Linked DNA regions of Homo sapiens. The protein of the gene in region 4 purifies or fractionates together with the protein of the main gene of each other region. This does not show direct contact. Each region holds a gene or a part of one and is shown on either strand. Other genes may lie near its edges.

The links. The genes of interacting proteins can lie anywhere in the genome.
Region 1: the proteins of UTP6 (region 4) and ACADS purify together in Homo sapiens (co-immunoprecipitation; one large-scale study listed by IntAct). This does not show direct contact.
Region 2: the proteins of UTP6 (region 4) and LRSAM1 purify together in Homo sapiens (affinity purification with mass spectrometry; one large-scale study listed by BioGRID and IntAct). This does not show direct contact.
Region 3: the proteins of UTP6 (region 4) and EMID1 purify together in Homo sapiens (co-immunoprecipitation; one large-scale study listed by IntAct). This does not show direct contact.

Annotation. Positions count from the first base shown.
Region 1 is NC_000012.12:120,724,458-120,728,625, forward strand, and holds the start of ACADS (short-chain specific acyl-CoA dehydrogenase, mitochondrial isoform 1 precursor), read left to right. Parts: upstream 1-1,368; 5' UTR 1,369-1,428; coding exon 1,429-1,474; intron 1,475-2,568; coding exon 2,569-2,732; intron 2,733-4,168. UniProt on the Homo sapiens protein: Short-chain specific acyl-CoA dehydrogenase is one of the acyl-CoA dehydrogenases that catalyze the first step of mitochondrial fatty acid beta-oxidation, an aerobic process breaking down fatty acids into acetyl-CoA and allowing the production of energy from fats.
Region 2 is NC_000009.12:127,458,010-127,461,509, forward strand, and holds part of LRSAM1 (E3 ubiquitin-protein ligase LRSAM1), read left to right. Parts: intron 1-993; coding exon 994-1,062; intron 1,063-3,163; coding exon 3,164-3,248; intron 3,249-3,500.
Region 3 is NC_000022.11:29,204,623-29,208,695, forward strand, and holds the start of EMID1 (EMI domain-containing protein 1 isoform 1 precursor), read left to right. Parts: upstream 1-1,273; 5' UTR 1,274-1,416; coding exon 1,417-1,517; intron 1,518-4,073.
Region 4 is NC_000017.11:31,891,709-31,895,208, forward strand, and holds part of UTP6 (U3 small nucleolar RNA-associated protein 6 homolog), read right to left. Parts: intron 3,304-3,500; coding exon 3,262-3,303; intron 3,030-3,261; coding exon 2,937-3,029; intron 1,087-2,936; coding exon 1,039-1,086; intron 616-1,038; coding exon 552-615; intron 1-551. UniProt on the Homo sapiens protein: Part of the small subunit (SSU) processome, first precursor of the small eukaryotic ribosomal subunit.

The sequences.
Region 1 (4,168 bases), on a different chromosome or scaffold from region 4:
CAGTCACAAATTCTCAAGAGTCTGGTTTAGATGCTCTGTGGCACCTGAAGCAATTATTGGCCTTTGCTCACAAACACAACTCACTTATTTCTCCCTTTTCTCCTGCTTCTTCATCGTTTCTTCCACCCAGGGCTGGTTCCCAGGTGGGATGACGGAAAGGTGAGGAAGCCCTTAGAGCATTTGCCAATGGGAGCCATTCATTTGACTTTAAAGTACTGAGAATTTAGAGGCGTTCTTTTAAATGCATTATTTAAAAAGAAAGGTAACACATTAAGGACTTTGCTGCATCTTTTGATTGGCTTTCTTCTAGGAAGTAGTGACCGAGGTTTCCACTTTCCTCCAAGAGGAAGAGACAGAAGTTTTGGCAAATAGGTCAATGCTGGGAACAGATGCCTGCCTGGCTGAGTGCTGGGAAAGAAAGGCAGTTGGAGGGATGTGTGGGTGCCTGGGAGGGCGTGGGTGGTGCCCAGGAGGCTATGGGAATCAGAATCACACTTGCACAAGAGAAGACCCTTATGGGACAAGTAAAATCAGCATAGTTTCTTGGGCGGGGCAAAGGTGTCCTGATGAGGATGCTAGGGGTCAAATATGTGTCTGGGTTCTGCCCCAATCGGGAATGAGACACAGTACTGAAGTGGAACGGGGGTAGCATCTCCACCCACCTTCACAGCCTCTGGGGAAAAGAAAGCTTTCCTTGCAGCCCAACTCCAGGGGCCTAAATATTGAGCACCAACACAAGACAGGTCCTTGAGCTTCTCGGAGCGAGTCGGGGAAGCAGATAATTTCAGATGCAAAGTGCCTTGAATAAACAGAACGAAAGATAGAGAGCCAGAGGGGGAGAAACGGCTTGGTGTGGTCAGGGCAGGCATCCATGAGACCTAAACGAAGAGGGGGCATTCCAGACAAAAGGAACAGTGATCACAGAGGCCCCGAGTCAGGAACCAGCTAAGGGTCTTAGAGAAGAGCTGCCTCGTAAAGCTAAGCAACAATAACCAGGGAACGGTGGGCATGGGCCCTGATAGACAAGGCAGGTCTTGGCTTTTTAAGCCATAGAATTGGATTTTAGGAGGGATGGGCCCGCCGACAAAGCCAACAAAGTTTTAACCCGAAGATCGCTATCTTATTTATGCTTTAAAAAGACCTCTCTGGCCTTTCTGCGAAGCTCTATCCTTAGCTTTCTCTTGTTAGCATTTTGATTAACGAATGTGGGCACGAACAGCCAGCTGACCGACCGCGCGCGCAGTCGAGCGTCGGTTCCTCGCCTTGGGAGGGACCACTGGAGGCCCCGCCCCCTGGCCGCGAGCGCACCTCGGCCCCGCTCCCGAGGCCCTACGGGCGTGGCCTCTGTCCCGGGTCCCGCCCCCCAGCACTCCGGAACAGCGCGCTCGCAGCGGGAGGTCGCGAAGCCTGGGACTGTGTCTGTCGCCCATGGCCGCCGCGCTGCTCGCCCGGGCCTCGGGCCCTGCCCGCAGAGGTGAGTGCGCTGGGGATCCGTACGGCGGGGCTTCAGCCCGCGTCTGGCCCAGCGGGCGGAGGTCCTGGCGGCCGGCTCTGTCAGAGCCGCTGGCAGGCGGAGCCCCACTCCGGGAGCGCTCACGGCCTTTGCCCCAGTTCTGCTGCTCCTTGCGCCGACCCAGCCCGGCCCTTCAGGCGTCCCTGGTTCCTGCACAGACCCCTACCCCCCGATTGACCCCAGCCACCAGCCCAGTTCCCAGTTCCCATATCTCCCTCCCTTCATTTCACCCCCACTAGAGGTTCAGGGTGCGTCCTTCTTCCGGAGCCAGGCCTGGGATTGAACCAGACCCGCATCTGTGACCTTGGGCAAGACAGCCCCTCCTCAGCCTCGGTTGGCCCATGTGTAAAATGTCCACAGAGAAAATCAGAGTTGTTGGGAGGATTAAATCATAGGGTATGTAAAGCACTTCGTGCCTGGCGTGTAACAGGTGTTCCACAAATGCTCGTTCTTGCTGGTTAATACAGTACCTTTCCCATCTTACGTGTCTCCAGTTGTAGCAGCCGTGACACATATAGCCACGGCTTCCTTTGCCTGGCCTGAATTACAAGGGGAACGCTACTGAGAACTGTGTTAAGCGCTAGTTAGTCTTTCTTTCGCACTCCGAGGAGCGGAATACTATTCGCCTCCACTTGTTATAGAAACGGAGGCTCACTGACGTTTAAAACCCTTGCCTAAGGTCACAGAGCTGAGGTCTTATTACTGTTGGTATTATACTGAGGACTGAAGGATGTAGTGTATGGAAATGTCTAGTGAGTGTACTAAGCATTCAGTTAGTATGGGGTTTTCAGTGGCCGCCATGGACATTTTGGGCTGACAGTTCTTTGTTGTGGGGGCTGTCCTCTGCCTTGTTGGATGTTCAGCAGGGATCCCGGACCCCTATCCACTGGGTACCAATAGTATTCCCCTGCTCTAGTTGTGACAACTAGAACTGGCTCCAGACATTGCCAGATGTCCCTTGGAGGGCAAAATCCTCCCTGGTGAGTTAGTGGGTCACTAGGATTCTTGGAGACCTCCTGCCTCCTCCTTCCACTCACTTCTGCCCTTGCCGGCAGCTCTCTGTCCTAGGGCCTGGCGGCAGTTACACACCATCTACCAGTCTGTGGAACTGCCCGAGACACACCAGATGTTGCTCCAGACATGCCGGGACTTTGCCGAGAAGGAGTTGTTTCCCATTGCAGCCCAGGTGGATAAGGAACATCTCTTCCCAGCGGCTCAGGTGAGAGTGCAACCTCAGCAGCCCACGATAGTGGTCTGCCCTCTGCTACTGGATGAATGGTGGCAGTGACAGTCAGCGGCACTCGGACTCTGGTAGAGGAACCCCAAAGCAGGGCCTGGAACCCAGAAAATGCTCTGGAAGTTTCCCTTGTCCAGCCTGTGGCCAGTAGCCAGGACTTAACTTCTGGGACAACAGTAATATGTGGTGGATGGTCAGTTGCTTACTGTGCCAGCCACTGTGCTCATTCTAAATAGTGCCTTTAGGGTGTTTGGCATGCACTAGGCACTGTTCTTGAGATGGGTTATCTCATCTGTTCCTCACAACGGTCCTGTGAGGTGAAGGTACTATTCTTATTTATTTTTTTGAGACGGAGTTTCACTCTTGTGGCTCAGGCTGGAGTGCAATGGTGCGACCTCGCCTCACTGCAGCCTCTGCCTCCTGAGTTCAAGTGATTCTCCTGCCTCAGCCTCCCAAGTAGCTGGGATTATAGGCGTGCACTGCTCTGCCCCGCTACTTTTGTATTTTTAGTAAAGACGGCGTTTCACCATGTTGGCCAGGCTGGTCTCAAACTCCTGAATTCAGGTGATCTGCCCACCTCGGCCTCCCAAAGTGCTGGGATTACAGGTGTGAGACACCACGCCCGGCCAAAGGTAGTATTATTATATACCCCATGGACTCAGACTTGTGAACAAGTTAAATAACATACCCAAGGTCATGGAGCTCATCAGCGGCAGCCTGCTCGACCTATTTTCTTTTTTATTTACTTATTTTTTTTTGAAATGGACTCTCGCTCTGTTGCCCAGGCTGGAGGGCAGTGGCGCAATCTCAACGCACTGCACCCCTCTGCCTCCTGGGTTCAAGCAATTCTCCTGCCTCGGCCCCCAGTAGCTGGGATTACAGGCGGGCACCACCACGCCCAGCTAGTTTTTGTACTTTCAGTAGAGATGGGGTTTCTCCATGTTGGGCAGGCTGGTCTCAAACTCCTGACCTTAGGCGATCTGCCCGCCTTGGCGTCCCAAAGTGCTGGGATTACAGGCGTGAGCCACCGTGCCCGGCCTGCTTGAACTGTTTTCTCCCCTGAGTTTCCCATCAGCGCGCTCCCTCCCGTGCCACTGTGTTCTTCCATTTGCATTCAGTCTGTCTGCAGCTACGCGTTGAAGATGTTACTGCCGTACACGCTGACCTAAAGATGTCCAGCACCTGGTGTAAACACTCAGTAGTAGATAGTTGTTTAATTAATGATTTGTGAAAAGTCAAACCTCTCCGGCCTCTTCTCCTTGCCTGTTTTTTTTTTTAATTTTAATTTTAATTTATTTTTTATTTTTAAAAATTTTTTGAGACAGTCTTGCTCTGTCACCAGGTTGGAGTGCAGTGGCGCGATCTCGGCTCACTGCAACCTCCGCCTTCTGAGTTCAAACAATTGTTTCCTGCCTCAG
Region 2 (3,500 bases), on a different chromosome or scaffold from region 4:
TCCATAGATATGGAGGGTACCTGTGTGTGCACATGTATAAATATTTCTCCAAGGCCTTTTTTGTGCATTTTCATTTTTAAAAAATTAGCAGTCAGTCGTGGTGGCTCACACCCATAATCCTAGCACTTTGGGAGGCCAAGGCGGGTGGGTCACTTGAGGTCAGGAGTTCAAGACCAGCCTGGCCAACATGGTGAAACCCCGTCTCTACTAAAAATACAAAAAATTAGCCGGGCGCGGTGGCGGGCGCCTGTAGTCCCAGCTACTCGGGAGGCTGAGGCAGGAGAATGGCGTGAACCCGGGAAGCGGAGCTTGCAGTGAGCCGAGATTGCGCCACTGCAGTCCGCAGTCCGGCGTGGGCGACAGAGCGAGACTTCGTCTCAAAAACAAAACAAAACAAAACAAAACAAAACAAAAAAAAACACCAGCAGAGCATGTTGGCTTGTGCTTGTAATCCCAGCTACTTGGGAGGCTGAGGCACGAGAATCACTTGAACCCAGGAGGTGGAGGTTGCAGTGAGCTGAGGTCGTGCCACTGCACTCCAGCCTGGGTGACAGAGTGAGACTCTGTCTCAAAATAAAACAAAATAAAATAAAATTAAATTAAAAATTAGCAAGTACAGTTAAGCAAAGGGGGAAACATCTATAATTTTACACTGTGGAGTACCACTGTCAATATTTTATCGCATATTTGAAAGTCTTACATATTTATACAATGGAGTGTTTCTTTTTAACATATTAGTATCTAGGCATACTGTTTTATAGCATAGTTTTTCAGTTAACAGTAAAAATAAATATACATAAAATAAGAAAATGGTATAATGGTTTGAGAAGGAAAATGAGGCGGGAATGATCAACACTGAGTGGGAAAGGAGTGGCAGGCACTCTGTTTCTGCACTGGGGGTGTGAGGTGGCCCCAGCCCCTCCTCAGCGCTCTGGAGCCCGGAGTCTGAGGGACTTTCTCACTTGGAGACTCACAGGGGTCTTTCTTCTGCAGGTTCTAGATCTCCACGATAATCAGCTGACAGCCCTTCCTGACGATCTGGGGCAGCTGACTGCCCTCCAGGTAAGGCTGCAGAAACAGAAACCCACCTCGGATGGCCTTAGTGAGACCAGGCAGTCACTCAAGCCTGGAATGTTCTGGCCGGGCTCCAGCCAGTGGAAGCAGGCTGCAATCAGTGCCAGCTCCACCCTCCCCTTGGCCCTTTGGGGTTTTTTTTTTTTTTTTTGAGGCAGTGCCTCACTGCGTTGCCCAGGCTGGGGTGCAGTGGCGCCATCAGAGTTGCAGAGGCAACCTCTGCCTCCCGAGTTCAAGCGATTCTCCTGCCTCAGCCTCCCTAGTAGCTGGGATTACAGGTGTGTGCCACCACTCCCAGCTAGTTTTTGTATTTTTAGTAGAGATGGTGTTTCGCCTTGTTGGCCTGACTGGTCTCAAACTCCTGACCTCAAGTTATCCACTCACTTTGGCCTCCCAAAGTGCTGGGATTACAGGTGTGAGCCACCACGCCTGACCAATTGTACCACTTTGAGCCACAATAAATACCTTGGTGTAGGACTTTTTGTATGTGTATTTTTTTTTTCTCACTCTTGTCACCCAGGCTGGAGTGCAGTGGCACCATCTCAACTCACTGCAACATCTGCCTCCCGGGTTCAAGAGATTCTCATGCCTCAGCCTCCTGAGTATCTGGGATTACAGGCACACGCCACCACACCTGGACAATTTTTGTATTTTCAGTAGAGACTTGTTTTCACCATGTTGGCCAGGCTGACCTCAAACTCCTGGCCTCAGGTGATCCACCCGTCTTGGCCTCCCAAAGTGCTGGAATTACAGGCATGAGCCACTGCACCTGGCCAGTAGGTGTATTTTTATAGAATTGCTGCATTCACTAATTTGTAACTTTTGGATACCTGACAATAACTCATAGCATCCTTTGGTTCATCAAATATTCATCTTATTATTTTTAATGGCTACTTAGCTTTCCATTGCATCATTTTTTGTTTGTTTGTATTTTTGAGATAGAGTCTCGCTCTATCACCAGGCTGGAGTGCAGTGGTGTGATCTCGGCTCACTGCAATCTCCACCTCCCGGGTTCAAGCGATTCCCCTGCCTCAGCCTCCTAAGTAGCTGGAATTACAGGCGCCCACCACTATGCCTGGCTAATTTTTTATATTTTAGTAGAGACGGGGTTTCACCATGTTCACCAGGATGGTCTCAATCTCCTGATCTCATGATCCACCCACCTCAGCCTCCCAAAGTGCTGGGATTACAGGTGTTAGCCACCGTGCCTGGCCCCCATTGCATCTATTTTTAATGGTTAGTGTGTCATCCTGCTAGCCTTGCTCACCTCGAGGTACCACCTTCTGGAGGGAGCACAGCTTCGGAATCCAACAAGCCCTGGTTCAGTCCCAGCACCACTGCCGGCCTGAGGCCTTGGGTGGATCACACGGCCTTAGGGCAGCCTTTTCCTTAAGGCCAGGGGAACTAGAGCCTCCTGTGCTGCCTCCCCAGATCCCCAAGTCTGTAGTCCCCTTCTCCCTCCTTCCCTGATGGTGGGGCAGTTACTGAGCATTTTGTGGTCGGTGTAAGTGCTGGAACCTCAGCCAGAAGGGGTTCAAGGCCTGGCTGTGCTCTCCTGAGCACGTGACTTTGCCACCCTGAGCTTCAGTTTTTTTCCTGTCTCCAGCGGAAACAAGAATTTCTGTCTTCCTCAAGGGCCGGTAGGGGGAGATAAGAGCTTGTGTGTGTAGTGCCTGGGTGCCCTGGCCCGGCAGGGCGAGGGGTGCGGGGGTCATCACTGTGGTCTGTGTGTGGGTTCTCGTGTCACCTCTTCCTGTTTCTTTCTTTTTTTTTTTTTTTTTTTTTTTTTTGAGACGGAGTCTCACTCTGTTGCCCAGGCCGGAGTGCAATGGTGCAATCTCAGCTCACCGCAACCTCTGCCTCCTGGGTTCAAGCAATTCTCCTGCCTCAGCCTCCCGAGTAGCTGGGACTACAGGTGTGTGCCACCATGCCCAGCTAATTTTTGTATTTTTAGTAGAGATGGGATTTCACTATGTTGGCCAGGCTGGTCTTGAACTCTTGACCTTGTGATCCACCTGCCTCGGCCTCCCAAAGTGCTGGGATTACAGGCATAAGCCACTGCGCCTGGCTGCCTCTTCCTCTTTCTTAGGTCTTAAACGTGGAAAGGAATCAACTGATGCAGCTCCCACGTTCCATTGGGAACCTGACCCAGCTCCAGACTCTCAATGTTAAAGGTAGGGACCAAGAAGCCGTGTCCGTGTGACCCTCCATCAGCTCTGGGCCATCCTGGCCGGGATCCACAGGCTGCCCCGCCCGGGAGCCATTGAGCAGGAGGGCAGCCAGTCTCCGGGGGTCGCTGTAAATGGACTGACCCCTGCTGGGTCAGCTGTCTTCATGGTAACCAGAGACAGGCTGTCTGGAGGGTTCCTGTGGCTCCTGAGAGCCAGGGCCGTATGGCCGTATGGGGAGGAGGGCAGCTGGGCCCC
Region 3 (4,073 bases), on a different chromosome or scaffold from region 4:
AGGGCAACAGCTTTCTCTATGTGGACACACTGGTGATGGATCCCCCGTCCTGCCTGCCTGCCTGCCTATGGTGGCCTATGCTGCCTGCCCCTGGTGAGTCCAGGAGGGGCAATCCAGTGACTGGCAGATCCTTTCTGGGGAGTGTTTCTAGAAGGGACCGTGGGTCTGGACAAGCCATAACAGGAAGTAGCCAAGCTGGGCAAGGGCTTCCCCAGCCCAGGCCTAACTACTGCCCATCGATCCAGGCAGAAGGCGGGGTTAGAGACTGCCCTGGGAGATTGGGGGTCTGGGTCCCCTCTGATGAGAGCTCTGGTCTCTCCCTATAAACACACACTCCTATCACAGACACACACATAACACACATGCACATAAATCCACATCAAGCATGCACACACATCCATCATACACACATACGACACACACATGCACCCCTGCACACACACACTACGCTTACATATACCTTTGTGGGATGTAGAGCCATTCCTCCAGAAGCCCATCCATGTACCCCAGATGAAACCACCCAACACCAATTCTTACCTTGTTACATATGGTGAAATCAAGGCATAGACCGAAGTGCTGTGGTTAAGAGCTGTTACTCTCCGAAGTCAGGCGATCTGGGTACAAATCCTGGCTCTGCCAAACCCCTGCCACGGTGCTTTAGGTAAATGACAGCTCCTTTCTGTGGCTTAGTTTCTCCACCTGTAAAATGAGAATAAGAACAGACTCTGCACTTATGGGGTCAGCCCAGATCTCCTCCTAGGGAGACTGCGAGTGCCTGGGCCTCAGTTTTCTCTTCTGTAAAATGGGGATATTGTGCCCAGTTCGAGCAGAGTGGCTTGAAGAGTCACCTGAGATAGGATGTGAAGTGGCCGCGGTGAGGTGCCCAATACACGTGGCGCGCACTGCTCAGGAAGCTTTCCTTGGAGGGCTGGATCCCGCAAAGGTGTCGAAAAAGGATGAGTCCCGGATATCATTCGCTCAGGTGAGGTGGGTTCGGGTCCCGGCTGCGTCTGGGACCGTGGCCCGGGCCTCAGTTTCCCAGTCTACAGCCCGTGGGAGGACACCTCGGAGCTGGCACCCCGCCCCCAAAAGGGCCCCGCGGCGCAGGGCGTGGGGCTCAGGTGGACACCTGGCGGGCCTCCTGGCGGGGGCGCCCTGGCCGCCCGGGCCCCTCCGGGCTCCTTCCGGGTTGGCAGCGGCGGCGCAGGGGGCGGGGGGCAGCGCAGAGGGGCCGGGCGAGGCCGGGAGCGCGCGCCCCCGCCCCCGCCCGCCCGCCTCCTGCCCGCCCTCCGGCCGCGGAGCTGGAAACCGGGCTCCGCGCGTCCGGGGCGGCTGGCGGCGCGGGCAGGCAGGCGGGGAGGACAGGCTGGGGGCGGCGACCGCGAGGGGCCGCGCGCGGAGGGCGCCTGGTGCAGCATGGGCGGCCCGCGGGCTTGGGCGCTGCTCTGCCTCGGGCTCCTGCTCCCGGGAGGCGGCGCTGCGTGGAGCATCGGGGCAGCTCCGTTCTCCGGACGCAGGTAAGAGCTCCCGGCGCCTTTGCACCCCGCTGGCCGAGGGTCCCGGCGCGCACACGCCCCCACCTCCAGGAAGGGCTGGGATTGGAGGGCGATCCAGTCCCCAGCCCGGGTGAGGGCAGGGACACGGCCATCCCGCGGTCCGGCTGAGGCTCCCGCGAGTGCGGGGTCCCCTACTCCATGTGTCGGAGCTGGCTGCCTCCCCTACTCCCTCCCTTTCAACCCAGGAGCTCGAGAGGAGGGGGAAGGGGCGCAACGAGGGCGAAGCCCTGGCCCTTCTGTTCCCCTGTCCCTAGGGCCCCTCCCCCTGCACTTGGGAAAGGCCTATGACACCCCCTAGCCGACTCTTCTCGGACCCTCTCTCCCCTTTTCCCTGTTCCTGTTTTTTTGCTTTGTTTTGTTTTTTGTTTGTTTGTTTTGTACCCAGGCTATTTATCTCCCTCGGAGGAGGGACTGGGGTGGAGTCTCACAGCCCAGTGGGTCAGTGTCGGAGATACCCCAGGGACCTGGCATTTTGGACAGAGAAAAGAGGGAGCACAGTCTTCCTTCTGCTCTCCTAGCGGCGGGGAACCTCCTCCCTGCTGGCCTTTACGGAGGAGCTCCCAGAACCTGACATGGTGGGGCCCATTATTATATATAGTGTCCTCATCAATCCTTGAAGGACCGAATGAGGTAGGGAAAACTGTCCCCATTCAACGGTTAAGCAAACTGAGACCCTAGGGAATTGGCATCATCTTTTAGCCTCATGGGCTATTCACTGAAGAGCTAGGTTGCAAATCTGCCCTTCTATCCTTGATGACAGTGTTTGAACCTGTCCTGGCCTCTGTCCTGGCTGCAGCCCCAGCGAGGGTCCCCTCCTAAAGGCCAGCCGCCGTTGTCCAAGGCAGACAATGTGGAGTAGCCAGGCCTCTCCAGGCCTTTTCATCCCATTCAAAGGCCTGCGCGGCCCCCACCCCCTACGGCCTCAATTCTTTAATTCTTTTCAGAAATTCTCCTTTCCCAGTGGTCAGGGGCCAGCATGCCCCTGCTGGGCTAGCAAGAGCAGTTGACATGGGCAGGGCTGGAGGACGGAGGTGGTTGAAGCATCAGAGGCCAGAAGAGCAGTTGTCTGAGACAGGGGTGGACGTGTGGCAGATGTTACAGCCACCACCTATTGTGTGCAGACAACAGTTAGCCTGAGTCGGCTCCGTTACCTGCATTCATCAGCTCCAGAATCCTCCCAGCTGCTTGGAGGTATGCTCTTTATGATTCTGTTTCATAGAGGAGGAAGATGAGGCTCAGAGAGGGAACATGACCTGCCCAGAGCATGGAAGTGAGCCGCCAGGATCCCAGATGCTAAGAGGACAGAGACTATGAACTCAGAAATCCCACTGTTAGGCTCAGGATGATGGTGGCGACAGCTTAAGGCCCAGACCGCCCTGCAGCCAGTTCAAGGCAGGGCTTCCCAGCCTGGGCTCCTCACCTCCCAGGGTCTCCTGGGTGGGAACAGGATGATGGCTATAACCAGGTATCTGGTGGTCACTGGGGACTGTCACTCCATGTGTTGACAGAAGCCTATCACAGTAGCCTGAGCATCCCAAAAACCCTGTGGGCAACACTATTGCACCCATTGTACAGATACGGAGGCTGAGGCCTACAGAGGACAAGTGGCACCTCAGTCCAGACCAGTCGATTTCCAAATCCAGTGGCTTTTTCTCTCCAGCAGCCTTGCTGGAAGAGGGAAAGAGGTTGTCGGCTTGGGGGCACCAGGAAAGGTTTGCAGTCATGATTAGGAGTTAGGGGCTCCAGCCTTGGACAGAATGGAGACAGAATTCCTTGCTCTTACAGGCTTGATGTGTGACCTCAAGTGGGTCACTTCCTGGCCATGGGTCTCAGTTTTGCTCTCAGTTTCCTTCTTTCCTCGTGGGAAGGACCAGCACCGGGCCTCACCTGCAGTGGTTCCTGCTATCAATCATGTCACATGGGGGTAGGGACCTGGAGCTTGAGGAGTCTGTGGGCTACCAGAACCTCCACTTGTGGCCCCATCCCCACGTTGCTGGAGACAGCATGGGGGTGTCATGCCCTGTCAGCCTTCCTGCCACCCACACCCCAGCACCCCAGGCACCCCTTGGCAGCCAAGGGACCAGACGCAGAAAAGAGGCTTTGTCCTGGGGAGGGGGTGGCCTGGGAAGGCATCCAGGGGGCCGCCCCTTGCCCCAGGAAGGTGGTGACACTTGGAGACCCCCGGAACCAGGGTGCCCAAGGGCTATGCAGAGCTGCCTTGGCTTGCCCCTGCCCCTGGGGCTGCTTCCTGCCCCGCTGAGGTCCTTCTAAGCCTGGAGTCTGCTTCCTTTAACCACTCATCTCAGCGTTTCAGCTGAGGGTTCAAGCCTTCACCAGCCCAGATCTCTCGCCCCTGCAGCACCGGCTTCCTTCCGGCAAATCCTAGGATCAGGGAGAATGGAGGGCTCTAAAATGGAGGGGATCTGCCCCAGCCTCTGTCTAGGGGGCTGCAATCCCAGCTGATGCCCACAGGGGTGACCTGGGTAGGTGCTTTCTCTTGGAGCCTGTTTCCCCCTC
Region 4 (3,500 bases):
ATTTTGCCATCATCTAAAAAGAAATACAGTCTGGCCGGGAGTGGTGGCTCACGCCTGTAATCCCAGCACTTTGGAAGGCCAAGGCGGGTGGATCACGAGGTCAGGGGTTCGAGAGACCAGCCTGACCAACGTGGTAAAACCCAGTCTCTACTAAAAATACAAAAATTAGCTGGGCGTGGTGGCGGGCACCTGTAATCCCACCTACTCAGGAGGCTAAGGCAGGAGAATTGCTTCAACCTGGGAGGCGGAGGTTGCAGTGAGCCAAGATCACACCACTGCCCTCCAGCCTGGGCGACAGAGCGAGACTCCGTCTCAAAAAAAAAAGAAATACAGTCCTTCTTGCCTGCAGATACAACACCTAGGACAGTAACTAGTATATAGTAGGCAGGGGTGAACTATGAGGCAGCTATTCAGTAAGAAAAACTGCTGAGGCCAACTGCCTAAGCTCAAGTCCTCAAAATAATTTCTCTTAGATTCATCAATCGAAATAAAATCCAAAATGGCTTGAGTCTAAATAAAACATAGAAAAATTGACAAAGATTTCACCATACCTGGTTTGTTGGAATGAATCGCCAACATGGCAGAGAATACCTTGCTAAGTCGAGTTTTAGTAGCCTGTAAAAAAGGAAAATATTTCTACTTCCTGCACAGATAAATCATTGATCTTACTCTCTAAGTAATATGTACCCTAACTTTACCAACTGTAAAATCCAATGGAGCATGACATGCTATTGCTAGGGATATATAAACGAACACAGACCCTCAAAATTTTCTACCTCAATTAAACCACTAAACACTTTAAATATCTTTTTAAAAAGTCAACTGTATTGAACAAACACACGTAAAAATTATATTCTTTTCAATTGAATTGGAAACCATAGTCATTCAGATATCCAATGTTATATTGATGTTCCGCCTTCTTGGGTTCTTTTTTCATGTTAACCCTACACTTCAGGAAAAAACATCTGGCATGAAGCTTAAAGGGCAGATTAACAAAAAGACGGTCAGAGGAAGCAAGACATGCATGGCTTTACTCACCCACTTCTTACAAAAAGCCACATAGGAGAGCCAAAGTTGAACATCGTCCTGCAAGAAAAGCAATGTAGTAAGCTGCCCAAATTTGACCTTTACATATAATACACCTTTGCATTAATTAATTTTGCTAAAAACAAGCAAATTTCAGGTTGGATGCGGTGGCTCACACCTGTAATCCCACCACTTTGTGAAGCCGAAGCGGGCGGATCACTTGAGGTCAGGAGATTGAAACCAGCCTGGCCAACATGGTGAAACCCCACCTAACCTAAAATTACAAAGATTATTGGGAGGCCAAGGCGGATTGATCACTTGAGGTCAGGAGTTCAAAACCAGCCTGTCAAATATGGTGAAACCCCGTCTCTACTAAAAATACAAAAAAATTAGCCGGACTTGGTGGCAGACCCCTGTAATCCCAGCTACTCAGGAAGTTGAGACAGGAGAATCGCTTGAAGCCGGGAGGCCGAGATCGGGCCACTGCACTCCAGCCTGGGCAACATAGGGAAGCTCCAACTCAAAAAAACAAACAAAAAAAATTAGCCAGGTGTGGTGGTATGTGCCTGTAATCCCAGCTACTAGGGAGGCTGAGGCAGAAGAATCACTTGAACCTAGGAGGCGAAGGTTGCAGTGAGCTGCCGAGATTGTGTGCCACTGCACTCTAACCTGGGTGACAGAGCAAGACTCCACCTCAAAAAAAAAAAAAAAAAAAAGCCAGGCACAATGGCTCAGGCCTGTAATCCCAGCACTTTTGGAGGCTGAGGCAGGTGGATCACCTGAGGTCAGGAGTTTGAGACCAGCCTGGCCAAGATGGTGAAACCCTGTCTACTAAAAATACAAAAATTAGCCAGGCGCGGTGGTGCGTGCCTGAAGTCCCAGGTACTGGGGAGGCTGAGGCAGGAAAATTGCTTCAATCTGGGAGGCAGAGGTTGCAGTGAGCCAAGATCACACCACTGCACTCTAGCCTGGGCAACAGAGCAAAACTCCATCCCCCACCAAAAAAAAAAAAAAAAAAAAAGAAGCAGATTTCAGAAAATCCAGTCACCTCTCATCCTATCTGGCTCTTCCTCACAAAGGCCTCCGATCTCTTAACTATGATAATTCAACCTTTCCCCCAACTCCCACTCACAATGCTCCAAAAAAACTTTGTTATCTATCCAGTTGGTTTAATGCAGTTCTTAAAGAATCTCAATCTGGGGTAGCAATATAAAATTTGTCATTACCAAGAATCCAAAATACTTCTCATATAATATACCCAATCCCAAACACTCCCGTAATCCCAGCACTTTGGGAGGCTGAGGTGGGCAGATCACTTGAGCCCAGGAGTTCGAGACCAGCCTAAAAAACATGACGAAACCCTATGTCTACCAAAAATACAAAAATTAGCCAGGCACGGTGGCATGCGCCTGTGATCCCAGCTACTGGGGAGGCTGAGGTGGGAGAATCATTTGAGCCTGGGAGGCAGAGGTTACAGTGAACCGAGATCACCCTACTGTACTCTAGTCTGGGCAACACAGTGAGACCTTATCTCAAAAAAAAAAAAAAAAGAAAAAAAAAAAAATCAAGTTTCTGAGGTATTGCCCCTACATAACCATTTATTTTCTAGCTCTAAGTCTTCAGTGTACTTACAAATATATACAAATATCTCCCAAATTTCCAATCCTTAGTAATGTATCAAATACACTGTTTTCAGCACTGTCCTCATAGAATAACTATAAGGTAATAAGATCAATTTTCTTACTGGTTTGTTAAGTGGCTCAAAAAATGTTTTGAGTAATGATACCATCATTAGAGTAAGTATAAAGATACCCAAGATAAAAATAGAAAACTGCATTTGAATCCCTAATACAATATGTATAATACTTATCTTCACATCTCATAAAGTTAAGGATGCCTTGATCACTCACTTTCCATTTTGCTGAGGCACGCTGGAAAACACCTTGTACCCGGTGTACAATAGAATTCTCAATCTCATCCTTCTTAAATGAATATCCAATGCGCTAAAGGGGGACATAAAAAAACAGAGCCTCAACTTAATCATATTTGTCCAAAACAGCATTCCTACTTGACCACTTAATGGTACTGATGAAGCAAACAAATAATTACAAATATCCATTATAGGCATATCACCACAGTTTTATCAACACTGTCTCCCAAACACAAGTCCTAACTATACAGCCATACTGCTTAGTTCTGTATTTTTCTCCAACTTCTAGAAAATCTTCTACTTACTGTTCTTCTTCTCTGGATCAGCTCCAAAAGATTAATTTCATACTATGAAAGAAAAACATACAAAAAAATGAGAAGCTAGAAAATCTAAAACCTTTTAAATACTGGAAATTTAGTTAAAGTCATAAAACAAAAATCGAGAATATAAAATAAAAAATAATGTGCTATCACATAATTTACAATAAATGTCTAGAACTCACTTAAAATTCACTTAGCTATAAAACTTAAACAGAATTAACAAG